5 separate regions of the Homo sapiens genome follow, and regions 2, 3, 4 and 5 are each linked to region 1. Evidence: fine-mapped expression QTL. A gene starts in region 1. Each other region holds a variant in brackets. All regions are shown on one strand. Distances are between the middles of the regions.

Region 1 (5,171 bases):
TAGATGAATAAACTGACCAAGGAATTGATTTTTTGTTTTTTAAATGAGCTCATAATAAAATCCAGGAGGAATGGTTACAAGATAGACCTGAGACTGTTCTCAGAGTGCCTGGGCAGTTTCCAGCCTTTACTTCACAGCATTGCGCCAACCTCAGCTTCTCCTAGAGTAGGGTTGCCAGATAAATACAGGACACCCAGTTAAATGTGAATTTCAGAGAAACAGTGAATAATGTTTGAGTATAAGTATGTTCCATGTAGTTCATGAGACATATTTGTAGTGAAAAAAAAAACCATTGAGTGCTTATCTGAAATTCAAATCTGAGTGTCCCGTGCTTTTATTGGCTAAATCTGGCAATCTCTTCCTGCTGGGAAGTCTCCTGCCTGGCTCCAGGTCCCAAGTGTTGCTCCAACAGAAGTTGCCATGGCAGCCTGGCAGGCCTTCCAAAGCCTTCTAGAGCAGTCTCCACTCACCCCTGCAGCTTCCCCTCGCCCCTGCACGCTCTAGGTTCCCAACAAGCCCAGCTACTTTCATTTTCCTGGATGCCGCCCGCTGCTTCCAGCCTCCTGCTGCTTTTAGCCTCCAGTCTCTGCACTTGCTGTTCTTTCCCCTCTTCTCTTGTGCTAATTTCTAGTCATCCTTCAGCTCTCAATTTGGAGTCACTTCTGCCAGGACGCCCTCCTGGCCATTGCTGACTGGCTCCCCCCACAGCCCTCTAGTGCAGGGTTGGATAGTACCCTGCACCTTCCCCTGGCAGCCCTCCCTCAACCACCCGGTATCCCACACTGCCCTGGTGAGCAGAGGCCATGCCACACTCACCTTGTCCCCACACCTTGCACCTGGCCGCAGGTGGGAAGCCAGTGAGTGCCTCCTGAATGGATGACTGCAGACTGTCCCACCAATGCTGGGGCTCTCCAGTGTGACTACTTCCTTCCTCCCTTCTGTCTTTAGTCACTTTTTCATCAGTGTCCTCCTCCCCCTCCCCCAGAGTGGTTGGGAAAGACAGGGCCTTCAGCAACAGCACTTGGGGTGAACAGAGAGCATCCCACGTAGAGGGGCCTCCCAGCACCCACCACCACATCACACCACGTGCACTGCCCCAGTGGGCTCAGACCCAGCCACAGCGCAGCTTCCGAGTTCCTCCTGGCTAAAGCCACCTCTAGGCACAACTTTCTGCTCTTGTCCTTCTGCTGGCTCCTTAAATGAGCGGACTTGGATTTTGCTCCCAGTTTGGGGTATAGGGAGATGCCAGTGTCATGTGGTCGAGGCTTAGGGCAGGTGGCAGGGCTTGCAGAACATCACCCATATGCCGCTCCACGCTCACCCACCCAAAGCGGTGCCCACGCGCAGCCTGACAGCAGGCAGAGGCAGCTCTGAACTTAACCCTTGAGTGGCACTCAGGAGGCGGCTTCTCAAGATACCAGAATGGCCAGTGTTAACTACACACACACACACACACACACACACACACACACATACACACGAGCTCCCCTGTGCCCCAGAACACCCTTGCTTTCCTCCAGCCAGGGCTTGATTCAGAAGATGACCTCTCAGGTGCAAGGAGTGGCTGCAGGAGAGTCAGGGTGGGCTGGGGGTGAGACTATAACCCCTGGGGCTGCGGAAGGGCCCGGGAGGGAGCGGGGAGCGGGGGCAGGAGCTGAAACCCCGTGGCTCCCTAACCTGAGCTTTAGAGGCAGCAGCCTGGCTGTGCCCTCACACCGTCACCCCTAGCCTCCCCCAGCCTCCCCTGTCTGAATATGTTGAGAGGACAAAGAGGGAGAAACACCCTATAGTGTCAAATTTACTCCAAAAATAGAACCCCTCTTCCCCGCGGAAGGCTGGCGAGCTCCGGGCATGTGCACAGCACCCACGGCTCCGATTTCCTGGGTCTGGCCGTTTCTCCGGGAACTCCCAGCTCAGGTGCCCAGGATCCCGGAATTGTCCCCAACCCCTGCCACCCGGTCAAGCCTCCAACTTCTGCCGGGCGCAGCGCTCAGCCCTGGCTCGCGGGAGGGACTCACCCAGGGAGGCGCGGACTCCAGCGACTACTCCTCGGGCACCGCCAGGTGAGCCGGGACGGCGGCAAGTACAGGTAAGTCGGCCGGGCAGGTAGGTGTGCAACGGCTCCGGAGGCTGTGGCTGAGTAAAAGGGCTGACAGGTTAGATTCTCCCTCCTCCTCTGAGTTGTTAACCACACCCCTGCTGCTCTCCTCCCCACTTCCTTAAAGGGTGGGGTGTGTTGTCTGTGTGTGCCGGCTCCAGCCTCTTACCATAAACTCTGAAATAGACGCTGCCACCAATTCCCTGAGCGCCGGGCAGACCTGGGGGGCGATCTCTGCCATTCCCCCGGCCGCAAATGGGATCCTCGGATGTTATGTGCCCCTTGTGAGCAGTTAACTCCCCAATTCCTAACACCCCTCCATCCTCTGTCCACTCCACCTGCAGCCTTTTGGAGGCCAAAAGGTGTGTGTGAGGTGGGTGGGGGCGCAGGGCGGGCGGAGGAAACCAACTTCTCAGGCTGGTTCTCCCAAGACCCCCCGCAGTGGGAGATGTTATATCTACATGGTACTGAGCACTTGTGTCCTAATCTCTCCATGTCCTAAAGTGGCCCCAGTCCCTTTGCAGGCATGAAAAATCATAAATACCACTAGGGATTTTGGCAGAACCGGTCCAGGTCCCTGAACACAGAAGACCAGGTCCCTGAGCTGTGACTAAGTAGGGTCTGAGGACAGCACAAGAATAGTTAGAGATGCTGGACAGCCCCTTCCAGGGGCCCCGCCCAGAGGCTGGTCCCCTCTTTCCTCAGGCCGGTGATATGTGAGCAGGCACTCAAGGGCACTTAGCAACACTTCTTCCCTATCCCTAGGAAAACTCCAGACTTGCTCCTGAGTAGGAGGAGGAAGTGACCTGGACTTGGCATAAAGTGAAAAAAGTGGAGTGTACGCAGCATCATCCTCATCCTACAATGTCCTCTCCAGAGCCCCTGTCCCAAGCTTCTTTATTCTGTGTCCTGTGCAGGATTGGAATCTGATTCCCAGAGCTGCCCTGTTGCACAATTCTAGAGGATGCTATTCACAATGTACTTTCTGAGAATGGCGCCCCCTGGAGTTGTGCTGAGGAAGCACTCAGTTTCCAAGATTGCACTGACTCCTTCCCATTTCTGAAAAGAAACTGGAGACTTAGATAAGTTAACAAAGCTAGGAAGTCAATGTTTCTCAAAGTATAATTAGTGGACTACCCATAGCTATTGGCTGGATGTCACTCTGGGTCCGATGAAGATCAGACTCTCTGCAGCTAGGGCCCACCTGCCCAGCATGGGGCTCACAACCCATTGATGGGCACTGCCAGCCTTGACAGCTGGAGCCCCCCCACCCCTTCCCATTTGTGCTATTCACAGATTTGTCACGTTCCCAGCACTCAGCATTTTGGAGGTAATCTTGGTGACTACACAGCGGTCAGCAGGTCAGAAGGTGGTCAGGTGGGAGAACTTGGCCAGGGATGGAGAGGCAAGTCAGACAGAGGTACACTGAAGTTAGCAGGGAAGGTGTGGGGATGAGGAGGCAGGTAATTGACTACATGGCAAGGACATGGTCAGAGGGCATCTGACAGTGGGTGTCCCCTCCGTATTCTTGCGCTTGGAAATGAAGTGATGAAGGCTGAGTGGCACAAAAGTTAGATACCTGGGTGAGTTGTTGAGAGTCTGTACTAGGAGGTGGCAGTGGGAACTAAAAGCAAAGACAATCAAGACCTGTTTAAGAAAAGGAGAGTTTGTGTGTGCTGCCCCTGTGTGGCCACATAAATGAACTACAATCTTATCTTGCTGGGACCAATTCTGGGAAAGGTGAGTTTTCAGAGGTTGTTGAATTCTTCAGCACTTTAAAAAAAGAATCTCCCAAATCTACCTCACAGAATCATAAACCCATAGCTTTTTAAATGAAAAAGACATTGAGAAACTCTCTGGGGTGGCCAACTCCGCCATCAGGTCTCCCTAGGTTCTGTCCAGTGTCATGTACAAGCAACTCAGGTGACAAGGTCATGCATTTCTGCCTGTTACTGCCTTTTAAAAAAACCCATCAGAAATGCCTCAGGAGCCCTCAAATTCCATGGAAATCCCTAAAAGACACTATCCATGGCGATGCTCTCCATATGGCATAAGTTGCAATAATGATCTACCCCAGTTAGAGAAGAAAAATATTTCCCTTCTACTTCTGTATCTCAAGCTGACCAAGTGCCATGTGGGAGGCCCTAATTGTGGGGGTGTTGGGGGGATGCATACCTGGATCAGAAGAAGGAGAAAACTGTAATGAAAAAGGCCTTTGAACAAATGTCCTTTCAGCTGCTGGACTCTTCCATTTGGATGTTCCACTCTTACCCCAAACTCAGGTCTATAACCCTGGCTCATATTGCTCTTCAAACAAGCCCCGTTCCAGCCCTCCCTGTGAATGTCAACAAAAGAGAAGTCACCTTTGACTCTCCCTCTCCCTCCTTACCCTGCAGCCATGCAATCTCCAATCTCTAAGTCCTGGGAGTCCCACAAACTTTTTTCCTATTCCTCGTTTTCTTTCCTGTCCTATTGACCCATCCTGGTTCAGGTTCTCTTTTCTTATCTTTTCACTAACTGGAGATCACAAAGGTGGTTGAGCTGGTGATTAACTTTTGGGATGGCATTTGAAACCACAAGAATGGATAAACTTGTCTAAGGCAAGAGTCAGAGACAGCAGAGGACTTCAAGTGAAGCTCTTACCAGGAGCAAATGAATGAAGAGCCAAAGGTCAAGTGGGGTGGGCTGATAAGTAAACTGAAAGTGAAGACACAGAGGCGGCACGCGCTGATGAGTCCTGGAAAGCTTGACTGCCAAGGGCAATTGAGACCAGGGGATATTGGAGGGGGTCGTGGGTTGAAAGAGGACTGATTTGTCATTTAGGATGATAGCCAGTAGAGCAGGTTTCAATGCTCACAGGAAGGATCCAGTCAAGAGGGAAGAGGTTGTGACTTTGGACATGCGAATCCATCTTTCTGAGCTTTTATTTCCTAATCTAGAAAAGTAGAAAAATAAGTATTATCTGTTCTACCTGTTTCCCAGGGTATTGTGAAGCCCAAATTAAGTGATAGGTGTACAAATGCTATGAAAAATTCTATAGCTATAATTTTTAGAAATGATAGCAATTAAAGTA
Region 2 (5,000 bases), 110 kb before region 1:
TGGGCTTGTGATTGGCACCAAACCCCTATGTAGATTTCCAAAGTCCCAGCCAACTTCATGGCCCTGGCCTAGAATCTACATCTCCTATTTCTCATGAAACATCCCCCAACGCATCCCCGGTATGTGCTAATGAGGCATGTGGGTTCACTCCCAGGCTAGCCATGTGCGCGCCTCTCACCTTTCTTACCCAATCCAGTGCTCCTAACCTGGAATCACAGACCCCAGAGGACTCTGGAATTATTACTGCCCATGAATCCACATGTTCATATGGGTAGCAAGTATTATATACTACTGAATATGTGACACTTGATACTATATTTTCAAGTGTGTATATATTTTATTATGTATAATAAAAATGCATTATATAGCCCACTACATTTTGTTCAGCAAAAGATTTTTAAAATATAACTATTGTTACACAGAGACACTCAAAATTTGACATTAGAAGGGCCTTTCCTCCCTGGAACGGTTAGGAAACACTGATCAAATCCCTTCTGAACTCTAAGGAGGAAGAGTCAGGTGGTGGTCTGAGGAAGCAACCTGGGGTCTTCTGAGTCTTTCAGTGTTTTCCAGATCACACCAGAAACCTGCTCCCACCTCCACTTGTGGCAGAGGCCTGGTCGATGCCTCTGATGGGAACACCTCTCAGCCCAGGAGATGATGGGAACACCTCTCAGCCCAGGAGAGACACCTGCACAGCTCCCTGTGGCTCTCAAGGCCTCAGAGTGAATCAGGACTCCCAGCTCCATCCCCCCAGGGCTTTTAACCTCCCAAATTACATCCTTCAAATACTTTTATCCTGCAGCCTTTTGACTTCTCAAACCTCCCATACAAGGGACCAACACAGGAGTCTAGAATTAACTGGGAGGCTCACTGAAGGGATAGAGAGGAACAGAGATGCCTTTTAAGCCAGAGGTTTTACAGATGATGTTGAAGGCCCTGCCCCACAGAAAACATGCAGGGTCACCCTCAGTGCCCCTGGCCTGGGCATTGCTGGCATCCCCTGGGGTGCCTCCCCACCAGGCAGTTTTCAGGGACTGTTTACTTGCCCTAAAATCAAACAAGGCAACATGTTGACTACAGTATTTAAAATCAGTATTAAAGTACAGTATTAAAAATATTTTTCAAGTCAATTAAGTTCCAGACTCCCTAAAGTAGGGTTCAGCAAATAAGCGCCCAGAGGGAAAATCTGGCCTTTCATCTATTTTTGTATGGACCCAAATGAAGAATGGTTTTCACATTGTTTCAATGACTGAAAAAAATTAAAAGACAAAAAATATTTCATGACACATGAAACTTATTTGAAATTCATATTTCAGCATCCAAAATGGTGTTTCACTGGAGCCCAGCTACACCCATTCATCGATGTATTGTCTGTGGCTGTTTTTGAGCTAAGAGAGTTAGCAGTTTTGGCAGAGACTTGCATAAACAGCAAAGCCCCAAATATTTACTATTTGGCCCTTTATAGAAAATGCTTACTGACTCCCACCCCAGAGGAAACCAAAAGAAGTCAGATCTCCCACAGGAGGGCTAATGGCAGGCTTGCCACCAAGAAAACTGGGGGACCCTGAACCTCTGAAACAGATGACCTTCTTCCCCAGTGACCTCCCCAGACCTAGGGAATCATGGCTCCTGGGCACCGACGGGCCCTCAGGTCCCTTATCCCCCATTCAGAAGGGAGAGGTGGCCCCTGGGTCATAGTCTTGAAAACAGGTCAAAGATCACTCCCTTCCTTGCTATCTGGGAGGAAAGATCAAAGTCGAGAGACAAGGCGAGAGGAAAGCAGGTAGGATGCCTCAACATCACAAAGAGCACAGGCACTTCGATGAGAGTCTGGCTCAGGCTTTTGAGTCTAACCTAGAAAATATTTTCTGAGCACATCCTTTGAACAAGGCTCTGTGCTCTGTGTTGACAGATGCCCAGATGAGTCAGGCTTCCCCACGGCTGCCTTATCTCTGAGCTCATATCTGACAGTGAACCTGGCTTCAGCCTCCTGTCCTTGACCCTGGCCCGTCTTCTTTAGGGAGATGTGGTGCAAACCTCTCTGTGTGCTGGTCTTGCTCCCTGGTGCAGCCGGGTGGGCCCCCAGCCCACAGCCCACACTCCATGCTCACCTGAGGCTGCACACCAGCTCGGTGAAGCGGGGCCGGTCACTGGGGTCGTAGTCCCAGCAGCGGGTCATGAGGGTATAAAGGACCGGTGGACAGAGATCAGGCTTGGGCAGCCGGTCTCCTTTCTCCAGCACCCCGATGACATCCTTGTTCTCCAGCCAGAAGAAGGGCTGCTTCCCAAAGCTCAGGATCTCCCACATGCACACGGCTGGGGTGTAAGGGAGCGTCAGGCCCTGGGTGGGGGAGACCAGTCCCTCCCACCCAG[A/G]AGCACCATCGCCATTAGCACTCAGTCTCCACCAGGAGCAGCTCCTGCGGTCCCTCCTCCTCCTCCAGCACCCTGGGGTCCTGCCTACCATGGTGGTCTGCCCGAGGGACAAGTGACCTACCTCTGCAGTAAGTGACCTAAGGCCTTGCTCGCTAGACCCCTGTCAGGGTGCTGCAGGATCAAGAGGTGGCAGTCATGGCATGCTATTGGGACCACAAGTGTCTTCTCTTAGGAGGGAGGGGAGCCACTCCTTAGTAAAGCTGGAAATGGAAGCCTCGCACCAACACTTGGTGCCTGTGTGATTGCGGGCAGGCTCCTGACTCATCTGAGCCTCAGTTTTCGTAACAGGAAAATGAGAGTAATAATAATGTTCTACAGGGTTGGCTGTGGGAGCACTAAGTGAGATGGTTTGCAGGAGGTGTTCCGTAAGGGGCTGTCTCTCTACACCTGCCTTTGCTCTCTCTCCTTCCTGTACCTCTCTCAGAATAAGTCACAGAGTTTCGTCTTAGTTTCTGGGGCTGGTAGGTGGAGCACACATGTCACAAGAGCCTCTTCCAGGAAGATGAGCCTGCACAGCCCAGGCCAGTCCTTAGCCTGGGTCACTCCCCTTCCTACCCCTACTGGCCTCCCCACCTCTGAGACTTCTCAGTGGCCACAGCAAAATAGAACCCTGGGAACGGAGGGTGGAGGTCAGACCCCTGCTCCCTGCACCCACCCCCTTAGCCTGGTTCAGAAGTGAGAATCTGAACACCTTTTCATGCCCTCCCAAATCAGCACTCACCGAACATCCAGACGTCACTGGCTGTCGTGAAGCGTCGGAAGTTAATGGACTCTGGGGACATCCATTTGATGGGGAGACGAGTCACAGAGGCTTTGGGTGGGCAAAGAGGTTGATTTTTAGGGAAGAAAGATCAGAATTATCCAGAAATACATCCTACTTTCTGAAGACCCTTAGCCTGGGCTGTCCAACTGTAGACTTCCTTCTTCTGGAATTTTTGGCTTCAGCGACCCCTCCAAGGCCAATGCAGAGGCTGGGAAGCCCCCTCACCTTTGTAATAGTCCTCGTCCTCAATGTACCGGGAAAGACCAAAGTCCCCCAGCTTCACACACTCAGGGGAGGCCACCAGGATGTTCCGGACAGCAATGTCCCTGGAAGAAGGGCATCAAGACCAGGATGAGGCACTGCCCACCCCCATGGGAGCAGGAACAGAGAGATGGACAGACAGATGGAAAAAGAGACCAAGAATCTAAGCCAGGGACTCGGACTCCAGAGCAGAATCGGGCAGCTTCTGTGGGTCACTGCCCCCATCGAGTGGTCTTGCCACAGCACACCTCAGGTGGGAGCCCAGCTGGCCCCTCTGCACCCCAACATGCACAGGTGCTTTGCCATCTCCTTCCCTCTTGCTGTTGGGCTCTGTCTCCCATCACCCCTTCATCCATCTCCAGCTTGAAGCCTGGCTCAGATTCCTGGCATCTGCTACACTCCACTTCTGTGCTGTTGCCTACACTGTCCCCCATGCCAGGGAGGCTGTCACCTGGTGATTCTTCAAGGATAAACTCCAACCACTTCCCTGAACACAGGTATTCTCTCTCATCTGCATTTCCACAGGACTGGTTAGGTCTTTGGTATAGCAGGAGTGGCAGCGGCAGCACAGCTAACTCTGATGGGGCACTTAGGATACCAGGATCGCATGAGAGCTTCACACACCCTGAGTCAGGCACAAGGCCACAGAGCCAATGTCAATGGTGGGTAATGCCCAACCACTGACTCCCTTGGGGGTCAGGTTCTCATGGCAGGGAATGGGAACAAAGCCAGGTAAAGCAGGGGCCAACTCCACAGCCACAGGGAGACTTGGATTTGGCAGCCCAGGGGTGTCGGCAACCAGGGTGATGTCTGGCCTAGGACCCCAGGATCTTCTTGGCCCTGCTCCAGCCCAGTCCCTTCTTCCTGGGCCATGTGCCACCAAGCCAGGGAGCTGGAGGTGAGCAAGCTCTGAGCAAGGTTGGGGGCGATTTCCTGGCACTCACAGGGGAGGGGCTAGAAGGTCTTGATATATAGACAGACACCTCGGACTTCAGAGTTACTCGTAACAACCCCATGAGGTACATACAGTGCCTGCAACTTTACAGATGAGGACACAGGGTCAGAGAGGTTGCTCAAGTGCTCAAAGCTGCTGGGCCAATTGCTGGGATTCCAACACTGCTCTGTGTCACCCACAAGCCCTGCTTCTACCCAGAGGCCTTGAGGATCTGGTGAAGGCCTGGCTTCCATACCGCTGGCCACTCCCTCCACCCCTACCTGTGCACGCAGTTGATGCTCTCCAGGTAGGCCATGGCTTTGCATATCTGCAGTGAGTACAGCACGAGGGTGAGCACCTTCAGGGAGTTCTTGTTCCGCTCCAGGTAGTGGCCCAGCTGCAGGAATGGGGAGGTGCCATCAAGACCCCTGGTTGGTCCCAGTATGGAGCCAGGGGACCAGGGTGCTGGCAACCCCTGACCCTTCCCTGGGGGCGGTGGGAGACAAACCCAAAGCTGGCAAAATGTTCCAGCAATTTCCTTGACAAACAGGGCCTCTGGCTTATTTCAGTGGAACACAGAAGTCAGGAAGCTGGGAGGAATGGGCT
Region 3 (5,000 bases), 83 kb before region 1:
GGCTCTCCGACTGCCCATGGCTCACAGCCTGGTTATTAAGAACCTTTGAATGCTTTCTTGCAAACATTAAAATGTCTATAGCTTTTCCTCCTGCTTGGCTAACACTGATTTAGTTGCTTTATCAAATAGCGTAAAGACTTCAAACTACCTTTGCCTCTCTCCCTATTCTCTGGCCTTTCTTCCTATAGGTCAGAAACAAAGAAGCAACAGGACCGGATGGCTTGTCTCTGTGCTCTGGATAATCTACTTCCAAAAAGGAAAAGGTGGTTGAATGAATTAATTACTCAGCTCACTTTCCTTCTCTTTTGTCAGTGCTCATCCATTTATAACTTTCTTCAGTGATCTCTATTGTCTCACTATTTTCTCAGGCTCACCTATTTCTAATAAAATACCTAATCTTTTTGGCTTTTTTCTTAATAAGCTTATTAAACATGTTTGATGTTAGTGGCTGGGTTTTTGAAAACAACATGACAGCTGAGTCCCCCACTGTCCTCCACCAGGATTGCTCTCACTCAAAGAGTGGCCCTTGCCTAAGGTCACACCTTTCCTAGGGGCCATCCATATTGAGTGACTGGTGAACACACATAATACCTATGTCCTTTCATCCTGATTTGGGACAGCTCTTCTGGCTCTAAGGCTCCAGTGGAATGGGCTGAGGCCTTTGCTGTGGCTGCATCGCAGCCCAACTTTTTCCTCTGCCCCATCCTGCTTTCTTCCCTCCCACTAGCTGTGTGCCTTGGGAGCTCCCATCAACACGCTTCCTCCAATGCAAGCCTCCCACCCAGGTCTGCTTCCCAGGAACCCCACCTGGGACAGTGGCTTGCAAACTGCTTCCCAGGCTTAATTCAATTCACCCTCCTTACTCTTTTCAAAGTATTCTTTTTTGTTTGTTTGTTTTAGTAAGATGACTATACTTAACATTTTAATAAATAAACTACACTTAAGCTTTTGTTGAAAAAAAGTCTTAGGCCAGGCATGGTGGCTCACACTTGTAATCCCAGCCCTTTGGGAGGCCGAGGCAGGAGGATCACCTGAGGTCAGGAGTTCGAGACTAGCCTGGCCAACATGGTGAAACCCTGCCTCTACTAAAAATACAAAAATTAGCCTGGCATGGTGGTGCATGCCTATAAAACCCAGCTACTTGGGAGGCTGAGGAAGGCCAATCACTTGAACCCGGAGGCAGAGGTTGCAGTGAGCTGATATCGCACCATTGCACTTCAGCCTGGGCCACAAGAGTAAAACTGTCTCAAAAATAAAAATAAGTCTTGCTTACATTTTATTTAAGAAGGTGTCACTCTGAGGTTGAGGACAAAATCAATGCAGGTGATTTTGGTGGAAAATCTCTCATTGGTTCCTCATTTTCTGTACAATCAGATAAGACCCAAACTAATGAACACAAGGCGTAAATCTCCCTTTGGGTTTTTTTCCCACATGTTCTTTCCAGTCCCATCCCCTCTGTACCCACAATGTGCTCTGTGCCTGGTCTCCAAAGTTGCTCTCTTTCTTCGCCCCCAACACAGCATGCTCTTGCTTTCCTCTGTGCTGAACACATTTAATTCTTCCTGCCTGGGGGACCCCTGGCTCCCCTCTCCCCCTTGTCCTTTCCTCCTGGTGAGCTCCCTGTTATGCTTTAAGGCCCAGAGAGCACTATGAGGGCCCCTGGGAAGCCTTCCCTGACTCCCTGTGATAAGGTTTTTGTTTCTTCCCCTGGATTCCAAAAAACTTTATACATCTATCTAGTAAGATACCATATGGGTTGAATTGTGGTTCCCCAAAAGGATATGTTGAAATCTTAACCTCTAGTGCCTTAGCGCAGGACTTTATAGAGTGTTTACAGACTAATCGAGTTAAAATGAGGTCATTCGGGTGGGCTGTCATCTAAAATGACTGGTGTCCTTAAAAAAGGGGGAAGTGTGAATGCAGAGAGAGACATGCACACGGGGAGATGGTGCAAGATTTGAGTGATGCAGCTGCAGGCCAAGGAGTGTCAAAGACCATTGGCGAATCACCAGCCAGGGAGAGGAAAGGACGGGTTCCCCTATGGACTTCAGAGGGAGCAGGGCCCTGCTGACACCTTGATCTTTAATTTCTAGCCTCCAGAACTGTGATACAATACCTTTCTGTTGTTTCACATCACTCTGTTTGTGGTGCTTTGTTAAAGCAGACCTAGGAGACTAATACAGACATTGACCAGTTAGAGCTAAAACAATGCTCCATGTCTGACCTTGGGTTAGACAGACACAGACAGTTGTTTTACTTTTAATTGGTATACGGTTATGAGAATTTTAATAAATTTTACTACCTATCTGGACAGCGATCCCCCAGTGATATCCCCTGTGGGGGCCAAGGCTTTTGGCTTCCTAAAGGTTCACTGAAAAAAATCACTGAAATGAGGCAGATTGATTAAAGGAGAAAAGGCATACAAATTTACTTAATATGCATACACAGGTACCTTCAGAATGAAGACCCAAAAATAGAGGAGAAATTGTCCATTTTTATGCTTAGGTTTAGCAAACAATGGACAGTCATGTAGAAATATGATTGGAGGAGAAGGGTCTGATCTAATGTTGACAGGCTGAGTGGGGAAACCCAGACAGGCCTGTCTGTCTAGATTCTTCTGGGCCTCTCTGAGCAGTGTTCCTTCCTGCTGGGTGCAGGGCAGGCCCTCTCTGGAATCAAGGCCTTATGACCTATAGTCCAACAATGTAGGTCAGATAATTTCTTTATGGCCTGTTTTTACATGGAATACTTTTAGGTTTTATGGCCGGATTTCTGTGGGGGAAAAGAGGTTCTGGTTTCTATGACCCACCTTGGGGAAGACAATCCTAGTTTCTATGGCACCTCGGGGGAGAGTGGGGCTGAGAGACAGGGGGCAGGAGAAAGTCAGAGAAAAACTTTTGCTTCTGAGGCTGCTGCTGAGGCCTTCATTTGGGGATATTGTTTTCTGAGCCCCAACAGTTCTCTCCCTCAAAGAGATTACAGTAAAGATTTAAATGGATTTCCAGTTATTTTTAGATGGCAGACTAATA[T/C]ATGTTGGAATGTGATGCTGTACTGAGACTGGCTTCAAGGTCAGAACAACTGACTGGCTTTATGTGGGTTACAGACACGTAAGAGCTTAGCACAATGGTAGGTGCAGAGCAGGTGCTCAAAAAATGGTAGCTAGCATTGTGATGGGTAAGGGGGGAAGGATGAACATGGCTCAAGGGTCAAGTCAACCTGAGGAGTTGATTAACCCAAGAAGTCTAGAATTAAGACATGAAGATGTGAGCTGGAAATGGAGTTCGGGGTCCTTGGGCCAGAGGTTCCTCTGACTCCCCTGACTGGGTGGGAACTGGCACCTGGGGAGACCCACCTCCCGGGAGCACCTGTCCAGTAGTGGCTCTAAATTCTTCCAAAGGCTGAGCCCTATAGAGGGGTACAGGTGGTTGAAGGAAGCAATCCCTGAAGAAAGGGATCTGAGGCCCTTTGTGAGCTGGAGCCAGCACCAGCAGCAGGTGGGTGAAGTGCAGTCAAGGAGCCTCATAGGATGATCAGGTCATGACCACGGCTGATCCGGCCATGCCAGTGACTGGGATGAACAATGCAAAGAAAAATGACTTCCTTCTGCTTCAAGCAAGAGAATCATGAAGGGTTTTATGTTCCCAGGGCAAAGAAAAATGACTTCCTCCTGTTTGGAGCAAGAGAATCATGAAGGGTTTTATGTTCCCAGGGCCTGGATAGCAGGCTCTTCCCTTGCACCTTCTGCTGTGTGTGAAGACGGGAAGTAGAGTTCTGAGAAGGCAGAAAAAAGGCTGAAAAGGTTAACAAAAGGCCTTTTCTTTAGAAGGCCCTTTCTTTCCGCTCACTATATTGAGCAGAATATAAGTGTCTCTGAAAAATAAAAATGTTCTGTTAAAAATGAGACCATTCTGTCAAAAATTCTGATTTACCCATAAACCGTATGAAGCGTTCTTGATGCCACGCTGAGATTGAGGAGGGATGAAGAACAATAAAGATCAGTTGGGAGAGTACCAGGTGGCCTTCACAGATTTTTCCCCCCAAAGTCCCCCTACTAAAATATCTTTTAAAGCAGTTACTATACCATTCTTTCCGGTGACATGCAGTGCCTGCCTCAGAGCAGGAGGGGCAGGTGTCGCTTCAACATGACAGGTAAAGTTTTATTTTTCACATGGGGACTGGGTTCAGAGCATTCATGGTACCATAATGCTTCCTAATTCACATCAGTGAATCTCAACAGGGTACCACTGGCACTTGGGGCAGGAGGATTCTTTGTTGTATGGGACTGTTCACCCATGGCAACAGCCCACCCACCAAATGCCAAGCCCCAGCCCCAATCATCGTGAGAACCATGACAATGTGCCAACTATAAAGGGCCCCTACACATTTCCCGCTGCCAACTTCCAGGAGGTGTGGAACGGCTCCTGGGGAGAAGAGCTGACTCACACATTCGGTGAGTCTCTATTTTCTTCTGCACATACCCCAAAATGACATAATTAAAGCTTTTAAATGGACAAAAGGCCCACTCACTGCTGTACATCTGGGTACACTGGTCTGTGTGTGCCTGAATGGAGGTACCAGTGACAGATACTATGATCTGAATTGAAGGTCATAATGGGTTGAATGGTGGCCCCCAAAAGATATGTCCATGTCCTAACCCCAGAATCTGTGAATGTGACCTCATTTGGAAAAAAAAATGGGGGGCTTTGCAAATGTAATTAAGTTAAGGATCTCAAGATGAGATCACTCTGGACTGAGTGGCCCCAAATCCAATGATAAGCATCCTTGTAAAAGATACAGAAAAGAGACACAGAGAGAGGAGAAGTCCACGTGAAGATGGAAGCAGAAGTTGGAGTGAAGTATCCATAAGCTGCGAATGCCTAGAGCTACCAGAAGCTGGGACAGGCAAGGAGAGATCCTCCCCTAGAGCCTTCAGGAGAACTGAGTCCCTGCTGACACCTTGATTTAGGACTTCTGGCCTCCAGAAATGTGAGAGAATCATT
Region 4 (5,171 bases), 45 kb before region 1:
AAAGGCCTAAATAGAACAAAAGGCTGACCCCCCTGCTGAGTAAGAAGGAATTCCTCCTGCCTGAGGACCCTCCAACTGGGACACCAGCTTCTTCTTGCCTTCAGAATCAAACTGAAACATTAACTCTTCCTGGGTCTTGAGCCTGCCGACTGCAGATCTTGGGACTAGCCAGTCTCCATACTCCTGTGTGCCAATTCCTTATAATAAATCTCTTTATAGACATCTCTACATCTTGTCTGTTCTGTTTCTCTGGGGAACTTGGACTAATACACTCCCTTTAATTAAAAGACAGTTACGCCTTTGAGGAAGAAACTGAAGATTTTATCAAATGAAACTCCTCTTCTGGCTCACTGACCACATTTATATCATATTTCTAGTGTTGAATATAGTCACAATAGCAACTACTGTTTATCAAGTGCTTTGTATGTATCAGGCATGGGGTTAAGCAATGCATATATGCTTTCTTATGCAATCCACATAACACCCTGTTCCCCTTGCAGAACATATGAGTGTCCCTAGCTCAAGCGTCATATTGGTACTTCCCAGGCCATGCGCCTCTGCCTGGATCGGTGCCTGGCACACACGAGGTGCTCAGTAGATTACTCCTGAAATCAGGAAGTGAACTCTTCTTTAAAATAGATTCTGTTGGCCAGGCATGGTGGCTAATGCCTGAAATCTCAGCACTTTGAAGGGCCAAGGTAGGCAGACCACCTGAGGTCAGGAGTTCGAGACCAGCCTGGCCAACATGGTGAAATCCTATCTCTACTAAAAATACAAAAATTAGCAGGGCATGGTGGTGCATGCCTGTAATACCAGCTACTTGGGATGCCGAGGCAGGAGAATTGCTTGAACTCAGAGGGCGGAGGTTGCAGTGAGCCAAGACTGTGCCACTGCACTCCAGCCTGGATGACAGAGTGAGACTCTGTCTCAAAATATATATATATATATAAATAATAAAAATAGATTCTGTTTATATTCCCATATTACAGATGAGAAAATGGAATCTCAAGAACAATAAATAACCAGCCCAAGGTAACAGAGCTAAGAAATGGTAGAGCTGAGACATACCTCCAAGTCCCTTGAGTTCAAAACTCACATTCTTCACGCTATGCCCATTCCCAGTGTGCATGGAAGAACCAGGCCCACCTCCAGCCGCCGACCTTGGCATTCACAACACAACTCTCTCAGCCGGCAAGAATGCCCTCTGTGTAGCTCCCTCAATGCTCAGCAAGCCCAAGCTACCCCCAGGCTGACAGCTTTACTCCTGGACATTCCACTGGGGCTTATAAAGACTAACTTGGGGCCAGATGTGTTGGCTCATGCCTGTAATCCCAGCGTTTGGGAGGCTGAGGCGGGTGTATCACTTGAGGCCAGGAGTTTGAGACCAACTGGCCAACATAGCAAAACCTGGTCTCTACTAAAAATATAAAAATTAGCTAGGTGTGGTGGCGAGCACCTGTAGCCCCATCTTCTTGGGAGGCTGAGGTGGAAGGATCATTTGAACCCAGGAGGCAGAGGCTGCAGTAAGCCGAGACTGCACCACTGCTCTCCAGCCTGGGCAACTCTGCCTCAAAAAAAAATAAAAATAAACTAAAAAGACTAACTTGAGAGTCTCACCACAGTTTTCTCTTTAAAAATAAGAGAAAACCAAGAGAGGAAACCCACTGAAGTCTCAGATCATCCTCTTTTCATCATAGAGTTGCTTTCAGGTAACAGGGGGAAAAAGGTCTGATGCACAGGCTGAGAAGTGAGACCACGGAGCAAGATGAGGCTGACCACACTTGGGCCTGGGTAGAAGGTCGTGAGGCAACATACCCAGTTTCCAGGAACTCCCTGTCCTTGCATTCTGCATTGCTCTTGAGTCTCATGTGGATGAAGCTACACAGCAGATCAGCAGATAGAGGATGGGTGGTGAGTGGAGTTAGGCATATTTTACAAAAGGGAAATCATACCAACCACAGGTAAGGGACAAGAGAGGGAAAGGATGAAGGCCGTAACGGAAGGGCTCTGGATAGACCACAGAGGAGGTGAGTGATATGCCTGGGCCTTCACACACTGTCAGACTTACTGGTTTACAAAAGAGTAAGCTAATAACGTGGTCTTGAATGTGGCCACATATACATGTCTCTTCATTTGCTCCTTAATGATTAAACCTTCCCACCCTCTGGTATCCGGAAAGCATCTCTGATTGCCCTGTTCTTCCTAGAAGCCATCTCAGTCCATAAATCCACTGGGTAGTGCACATCTGCTTTGTCCAAGACAAACAATGGTCTGATTTCTCTGTCTCTTGCAGCATCGAGCTCCCTTTCACTGATTTCAATACAACACAGCTGTTCTGATAATGATATAGCCAGGTACGAGGAAAACTGCACAGAGTGTTATGGCTCCTACCTGAACTCCCAAGAGCTCTGAGACCCTGAGCCCAACACATCTTCAATGGAGACCTCAGTTGCCTCA[T/C]TGAAGCAGAATGCTGGACCAGCTCTGATAATCTCTGACTTAAGTTCTTTCTTTCTTTTTTGAGATGGAGTCTCACTCTGTCACCCAGGCTGGAGTGCAGTGGTGTGATCTCAGCTCACTGCAACCTCCGCCTCCTGAGCTCAAGCTATTCTCCTGCCTCAGCCTTCCGAGTAGCTGGGATTACAGGCACATGCCACCATGCTTTGCTAGTTTTTCTATATTTTTAGTAGAGAGGGGGTTTTGCCATGTTGGCCAGGCTGGTCTCAAACTCCTGCCCTCAGGTGATCCACCTGCCTTGGCCTCTCAAAGTGCTGGGATTACGGGCATGAGCTACCACACTCAGCCTTGACTTAAGTTCTTTTGTTTTTGAGATGGAGTCTCACTCTGTCACCCAGGCTGAAGTACAGTGGCACGATCTCGGCTCACTGCAGCCTCTGCCTCTTGGATTCAAGCAGTTCTCCTGCCTCAGCCTCCCCAGTAGCTGGGACAAAAGGCACCCACCACCACGCCTGGCTAATTTTTGTATTTTTAGTAGAGATGGGGTTTTACCATGTTGGCCAGGCTGGTCTCGAACTCCTGATCTCAGGTGATCCACCCTCCTCGGCCTCCCAAAGTGCTGGAATTATAGGCGTGAGTCACCACACTAAGCCTTAAGTTCTTAATACATGAACTCCTGTGTCACTTGGCATTGGGTTCTTTGCAGATAGAAACCCCTGGATCCCCCAGGCCCAGCACAGGGCCTGGTCATCTCAGGTCCCCCTACATGCCAGTGAAGGGATCCTGTGATTATAAGAGGGTAGAAGGTAAGCTGTAGGGCAGGGGGTGTGGAGGAAGAGGTCTTAGGGCAAGGCCTTTAAGAAGAGGGAAGTGGAGGTTGGAAAACATGGGGAAGAGGGAGGGCATAAGGAAGAGATGTTATTCCATTCTGCTTTCAACATAATATCACAGCTCTGTTTATTCTGAGAAGCAACCAGCTGCAGCTCCAAAATAGAGATGCTGAGAAATGCCTCTGATGACAGAGACTGCTGCTGAGGGAACAAGGTTAGAACAGCCCTTCACAAGGGCTGGAGTGAGAGAGGTCCTGAGAGGGGAGACACTCCTGGATCTCTTTCCACTTCCGCCCTGCCCACCCCTGCTTCCTCCTTCCTAGCCCAAGGCAGCCCTAGTTCTTCTTTCCAGGGTCTCCGGGGCCCAGGGCAGGCACATGACAGAGCAGAGTGTGGCCCTGCCGTCACTCCAGGCCCCAGCAAGAGTGGTCAGTGTTCCTGGACAGAAGCTCCATGGCCAAGTGGGACAGGTGGCTTCCTTCTCCCTGGACCTGAATACCCTTTTCAAGCAATGTTGCTGGGAGCAGAAGAGACAATGAGATAATGGGATGGAACCAGAGGGTTTGCTAAGTGTCTGTGTTAAGAGCTTGTGTGTGATTGCACATGTAAGCAGGAGCAAAATCACACCAGGTGAAGTTAATCAGGCAGGAAGCCTTGTTTCCAGTTTATTGCAATAGGGCCAAGACTATTCCAATAGGGGAGGGAGATTGAACTCAATTCCTACCACAAGGGGAACAGCTGGGGATTCACAGCCAGTGGGCAAGGTGAGGGAGTCAGTGGAGGGATGAATACCAAGGGGAATTTGGTGAGGTAGTGATGGTGGCGGGGTAGGGGGTGAGGGGGTAGTTCTTGCTGGACTTTCTGGAGCTTAGCAGGCCAAGGAGCAGGGTGGGGGAGCCAAAAAGAGGGCTCAGAGGAGCCTGCCTAAGGTTCGGTCAAGGAGGGAGTCCTTGTCAGTGGAAGGAAAGCAAAGAGAGCAGGATATTTGGGGACATAGCCGTTCCCCTCCCTCACCCATGTAAGCATCAGCTCTAACAGGAGCCACCCGTCCGTCCCGCACTCACTCCATGGCAGAGAGAAAGGACGGTCCTAGGCCATCTGGCGTCTGCTAACAAGGGCAGCATGGGTTTGGGCCCACAGAGGCCCATCCCATCCCCAAAGCAGGCCAGCCTGGGCCTGACTCCACAGCACCCTATTCCGTGGGGCCTGCTTTGTCCCCTGGCTCTTGTGGAATCAGAGACCCTGATACGGTTTAGATGTTTGTTCCCTCCAATTTTATGTTGAAATGTGATTCCCAGTGTGGGAGGTGGGGCCTGGTGGGAGGTGTTTGGGTCATGTGGTGGATCCTTTATGAATGGCATGGTGCCTTCCCCATGTAATGAGTTTAATGAGTTCATGTGAGATCTGATTGTTTAAAAAGGAGGCTGGCACCTCCCCTGCTTCTATCTTGCCATTTGAGATGCCAGCTCCTCTTCCCTTCTGCCATGATTGGAAGCTTCCTGAGGCCTCACCAGAAGCCAAGCTGATGTTGGTGCCATGCTTGCACAGCCTGCAGAACCATGAGCCAATTAAGCCTCTTTTCTTTATGAATTACCCAGCCTCTGATATTCTGCTACAACAATGCAAAGAAATTGATACAAACCCTGAAAGGACTTTCCCCATCAAGGCCCCACTGCATTTGCTGGGGACTGACCTGGGGTGACTGAGGAGAGAGGCCATCGTCCTGGGGGCCTGTCACCTTCCTCCTTGTTGAAATGGACACTTGGCTAAACATGGACAGGTGGGCAAGCCCAGACACCCCGCACCTGGGCTGTTCAGTCCCTCACCATCCCCAGCAGGACCAGTCCAGATGGACTTTCTGGACTTTTTGTTCAACAGCCCAGAACA
Region 5 (5,171 bases), 73 kb before region 1:
ACGCTCCTCCGTGGGGGTGTTTCATAAACACTTTAAACACAACACATGTAAAGCTGAAATCTCAGAATGCCCTCCCTTTCTCTGTCTGGATCTCAATGAATAGTACCAACACCCATTTAGTCGCCCAAGCAAAAGCTTGAGTCATCCTTTTCTCCTTCCTTTCTTTCCCTCCCTATATCTAGTTAATCATCAAATTCTATTGACTCTGTCTCCTTAGATGTACTCAATTACGTTGATTTATCTCTATTCCCAACACCATTCTCTTAGTCCAGGTCCTCATCATTTTCCTTTTGCAGTATGACCACAGCCTCCTAACCCATCTCCCATTGGCCAGGTTTTTTTTTTTTTTTTTAATTCAATCCTTTTTTCTCTGCTGTCAGAGTTTAGGGGAAAAAGTTCCCTAAATGATTGGCCAGAGATCTAGTGGTTTAAAAGGAGGGTTTTTTAGGCAAATAAGAAATTGTTTATTTAAGAAAATATCACCTCTGTGGCCCTTCTTAGTGATTTACCAGGCATATCAGCCTATTTAAGGTTCTGAGAAGTCTTATTGCAAAAGAATCTGTTCAGAATTGTTTAACCAAACATTTCCCAATCTTTTTGACCACACATTCCCTTCCCGAGGGCACACTTCTTAACATCTTGCAGAACACCATGTTGTTGTTTTAGAACACAAATCTGATCATATTACTTCTTTATTTGAAAATAAGACAGATACCTGGATAGACACCAAAAGAAGACAATTTGCACTTTATTCTCTGGGCAATTAGAGGCCCTTGGAGATTCCTGAGCTGGGTAATAACCTAATACCCACACAGTCAATAGCCTCCAGTTATGGGCACTGCTGTGTGCTTTGTGCTTCTCCTCCACCATCTCCAATCCTTACAGCATGATCCCCGGGTGAAGAGACTGAAGCCCAGATCAGTTAATCATTAGGTCCCAGGCCACACAACCAGTAAGGATGGAGCAGGACTTGGCTAGAAGTCTAAGTGGCTTTAAACCCTCAGCTATTTGCAATAAGCAGGTGGCATTTTGCCTGCAGGAGACATTGGAAGCAGGAAAAATCAGAAGGCTTGGACATATTCCTGGAAGTCAGTCACTTCTGTTCTCCACCTCTGTTCCCCACCGACCCCAGATAATGCCTCAAAGCCATTCTTCTTAAGCCTGGGTCTCATTGCCTTCTCCATAGGCCTGTTGTGTTACTTTCATCCCTTAAACACCCAGCAGGGTATATCATACAACTCCAGGAATATCTTGCCCCTGCTTAAAAATATGTGTTGTTCCCTAGTGCCTGTCCATTTCCAAATTTCTCTGCCTGATATTCTAGGCCCTTCATTCTCTGCTGTCAACTTTCCTTTTTGATCTTGATTTTAGATACTTTTCTAAATATAATCCATACTCCAGTCAAACTGAACTACTTACTGTTCAGAGGCCTCCCTGCCTTTTGACATGCTGTTCCCCACTCTTGGAAAGCCTCTTCCTGTCCCCAGTGTCACTGCTTTAAATCCTACCTCTTTTTCAGGACCCTTTTCACTGCTGACTCTATGGAACATGTCCTAATATGAACTAACCTGCTGCTCTCTGTTTTTCAGCACAAAAGAACAATGAGGTGCTCCTCCCTAAACTTGGAAATCAGGTTAACTTCTGAAAATTAAACTAGTAAAATTCACAGTGGATGGCATCAGCTCTTTGCAAAAATGATATACCCAAAGGAAGACTCATGAAGTGGATAAAGAGAGAGGAAAACATCCTCCTGGAGGAAGATGACCAGGGCTTACTCTCAGGACACAATTGTGCCTTTATATCAGAAAGATGAGCAAACAAGGCCCTAATCAAATCAGTTACAGGAAACAGAGAGAGCCAATCAAACTGTAATCAATGGTGATAACTGGCCATGACAGT[G/A]ACATAATCAATTACACTCTGCTCTGGTGTGTGGAAGCACAGCGTGTGCTATAGCAGACGGAAGGCAGCCAGGATGATGTGGCCAGGGCACAGCAGTACTAACGAAAGGAAACATTCATGGAGTTTAGGGACACTGGCTTTCAGGACATGGGAAAGGTTGGCTATGAGCTGGAGATGGCTCATCCCATGTCCTCAGACCTGATTAGCTTTCCCAAAAGTTCCTGCTTCCTTTGTTCAAATTACCCACTAAGCAACCTGAGAACCAATCTGGATTTCCCTCCCATCATCAGAAAGGGGTGCTCTGGGCAGAGGAAAGGTATGTCCTCAGTGTATCTACTCATGGGGATGCTGGGAAGATTTAATGGAATAATGTGTGTAGAGGGATTGGCCCAGGCTCCACACAGTAATTGTTCAATAAATGTAGATGACTGAAATTAGTTCAGCATGTTGGAGCTCTGCTTATGATGACAATCTCATATACATTTGGTTAAGGTGAACTGGCATCCTGGTGTCCAGGTGCCCTGATGAAGGTGGGTACCTGGACCTGCAAAACAGATGTTGTGATTCTGGGTAGGAGTGAGCAAAAGGACGTGTTGCCAGGCAGGGCACCTGTTAACCCTCCACCTGGCTCAAAGCACCTCTACTTCATTGTCATCCTCTAAGTGCCCCACCAGTGCCTTCCTGTACATGCTCAGCACACAAGGCTTATACCAGTTTTGTTCTATTTTTAATGCAATCACTTGTGTATCTCTAATTCCTATTTCATCAGAGTGTAAACTCTTTGAGGACAGCAGCTTTTAAGTCCCTTGCAGAGCTTCAAGTATCATAAATACTTAATAAGTTGAAATGAATTGAATCAGAGGCCAAACAAATTATCTGGGGTTCAAGCAAAGGCTACAACATGTGTTTCCCAGGCTCCTAGAGAAGTAGTATGGGAACATCTGGAGAGCAGGCCTGGTGATGCAGGCTGAGCACATCTCTCTGATGCCACCTCACCTCTTCCACCCAGGGGTGGATATGGGAGAGCTGCGAGGCTGCAGGAGAGCTGCTCAGCTGCCCAGGAAGAAGACAGAGGGACAGACAGATGGACAGGGCAGACACTTCACACTTACCCGGATCTCCGTCTGGACAGTGCATTTGACCAGTTTGAAGTTTTTCCCAGGATTGAAGCTGTTGCTATAGAAGCAGACCTTGAGGATACGCACGTCCTCCTTTTCCACATCTACTGGTACCACCACCATGGGCTCTGCAGGGCCTTCAGGCCGGCGTAACGTGCCCAACTTTACTCGACTCAGGGGCTCGGACACCCCAGACATCCTCTCAGGCAGCAGCTAAGATCGGCACATTGCAGTCCTGCAGAGACAGCAGAGGGTCAGCCCTGAAAGAGCCCCACACAGGCCCACATACCTCATGGCCCCAGGGACAGCACCCACCGAGCTCCAAGACAGACACAAATGCTATATATTCTCCCATTCCCAAAAGCTCCCCTGCAAGGCACCTGGCTCTCTTGACTGGGAAAGATGCAGCAGAAAGGGGCAAGTTGCAGAAGCATCCAGGTATGAAACCCAGACTTGGGGCTCCCAGGGGTATGAGCTCTGTCTCCTGGAAGCCCCTCTCTCTGACCCATTCCTCCCTCCACCCTGGCACCCAGGCAAGGGGCCCACCCTTAGCAAAGGCAGCTGTGAGAGAAGGCGGTCACAGCTTGGTTCCAAGGCACAGCTGAGCAGAAAAAGCAAAGAGTGAGACAGTAGAAAATAGCAGGAGAGGAACAGGGACAAGGCGGAAAATCTGAGAAGAAACAGATTGGAGAAGAAGTGGCCCCGAGGGAATGGGAATGGAGAAGGCAGGAAAGGGCCCAGGTGGAGGGCCAGGCTGTCAACTGATGCTGTCCACCCCCATCCTCAGCTGCCAACAAAAACTTTCAGGGTGGGAGGCTTCCGTCTGACAGGAGCTCATCACATAGACATCACTGATCACATGCAGGAGGATTCAAGAGGAACAGCGCTCTGCCCAGCAGCCCCGCAGGGAAGGGCATGCTGCACATGGGAAGGAGCTGAGCTGGGACTCTAGAAAACCCAGCCCAGTTCTGCAGACAGCCTGGGTTGACACAGATGTAGATGATAAGAATCCTAGGAATCTGTAGTTCACCTTGAATCAGCAACATTGGTCCTGGCCTCTAGGTCCAATACAACTCAGTAGAGTAGGGTTTATCTCCCACTGATCTAAAGCAGGGAATGCCCAAAGGAAGAAGTGGATATTCTAGCTCTAGATGGATGGCATCGGCCTTAGCTCCACATAATCACTAGGGAAGCTTTCAGAAACCCTAAACCAAGCCCTAACCTCAGACACTGCTGTCAAATTGGTCTGGGCTGAGCATTGACATATTCGTTTCCCAGGACTTTTCTAACGTTTGGCCTGGGTTGGAAACCACTGTTCTAGAACGAGCTTAGCTCTTATCCTGAAACCCCTTCTTAAAGAAAAATATCCCCTTTCTAAGAAGAGACTGTGATTTTAGAGGGAGGGAAATTCCTTGACCAGGAGTTGGGGGCAAAATGATGGAGTTGACAATGTTAAAACACGAACATGGAGTCACACATTTGAAAAGTGGAATCATAGCCTGTATGTATTTATTCACACTGTGCTGGACAATAGAAAAGAAAGATTTAGATAGCCATTAGCTTCAAAGAGCCATTCCTTTTTTAAAAAGTGAATATGTATTACGAAGATGCAAAAGAGAGGCAAGGATGAGAGAAGGAGCTGGGCATGTCCTTCAGGTCAGGGGCAGGCAGACAACAGGCAGCACCAAGCTCAGAGTCCACAAGGGCAGCAAAATGTGGCATAAGACCTATGGAGAGAAGAATATGCAATCTGCTTTAAGATATATATATTCTTATCTAAAAGATATATATATATTCTGGAAGTATCTGTCTATTCTAGAGGTATCCATACCATTTTCCAACAAACATCTGCTGGACATGTCCTGTGTGTCAATACTCTGCTATGTAGTGAAGATGTAACCCGGATCCCCTGACCTTCAACAAGGAATCCAGGGGGAAGTCGTTTGAGAGGTAACCCCAGGAAACATCAGAGAAATGATGACAGGGAGGGGAAAACAGCTAATAAGAGTGATCAAGTGAGTTATCGCTTGCACAACCACAGTTTAATCCTACTGGGAACTCTAGGAGCCAGGAAAGAATGGACCCCACCCAGAGAGGGAGGGATCTGGGGTATTTATACACCACTCTTACAGTCATTGTTCCAGCATATCCAGC

Direction of the effects. Alleles are on the strand shown, and positions count from the first base shown. SD is a standard deviation of normalised expression in the study named. Not every link is listed here.
For the expression in esophagus muscle of the gene that starts at base 2,148 in region 1, allele C in region 3 goes with a higher level than allele T (moderate effect, 0.54 SD a copy in GTEx).

Evidence for each region. PIP is the estimated chance that this variant, and not a neighbour inherited with it, causes the effect.
Region 2: its variant is the best candidate, but not a certain one, in a credible set for the expression of PTK2B in whole blood (INTERVAL, PIP 0.85).
Region 3: its variant is the best candidate, but not a certain one, in a credible set for the expression of PTK2B in esophagus muscle (GTEx, PIP 0.84).
Region 4: its variant is the best candidate, but not a certain one, in a credible set for the expression of PTK2B in atrial appendage (GTEx, PIP 0.72).
Region 5: its variant is the best candidate, but not a certain one, in a credible set for the expression of PTK2B in whole blood (TOPMed, PIP 0.57).

What each region holds. Positions count from the first base shown.
Region 1 is chr8:27,322,529-27,327,699 of GRCh38, reverse strand. PTK2B (protein tyrosine kinase 2 beta) reads right to left here and starts at 2,148. Exons shown (of 31, transcript NM_173176.3): 1 at 2,019-2,148. RefSeq lists a silencer at 65-261 and enhancers at 1,004-1,073, 419-1,248, 1,854-1,903, 1,954-2,103.
Region 2 is chr8:27,437,556-27,442,555 of GRCh38, reverse strand. It overlaps PTK2B (protein tyrosine kinase 2 beta), which reads right to left. Exons shown (of 31, transcript NM_173176.3): 18 at 4,676-4,791; 19 at 3,425-3,525; 20 at 3,158-3,247; 21 at 2,115-2,319. Among named protein-coding and RNA genes, the nearest start is that of MIR6842, 6.7 kb to the right of the region's middle. The variant A/G (reference allele first, on the strand shown) is at 2,377.
Region 3 is chr8:27,405,989-27,410,988 of GRCh38, reverse strand. The region is part of intron 2 of PTK2B (protein tyrosine kinase 2 beta); the gene reads right to left. Among named protein-coding and RNA genes, the nearest start is that of MIR6842, 25 kb to the left of the region's middle. The variant T/C (reference allele first, on the strand shown) is at 3,030.
Region 4 is chr8:27,367,324-27,372,494 of GRCh38, reverse strand. All of the region lies in intron 1 of PTK2B (protein tyrosine kinase 2 beta), which reads right to left. Among named protein-coding and RNA genes, the nearest start is that of PTK2B, 44 kb to the right of the region's middle. RefSeq lists an enhancer at 1,777-1,846. The variant T/C (reference allele first, on the strand shown) is at 2,458.
Region 5 is chr8:27,395,629-27,400,799 of GRCh38, reverse strand. PTK2B (protein tyrosine kinase 2 beta) reads right to left here. Exons shown (of 31, transcript NM_173176.3): 2 at 3,012-3,252. The coding sequence starts at 3,215. Among named protein-coding and RNA genes, the nearest start is that of MIR6842, 35 kb to the left of the region's middle. The variant G/A (reference allele first, on the strand shown) is at 1,900.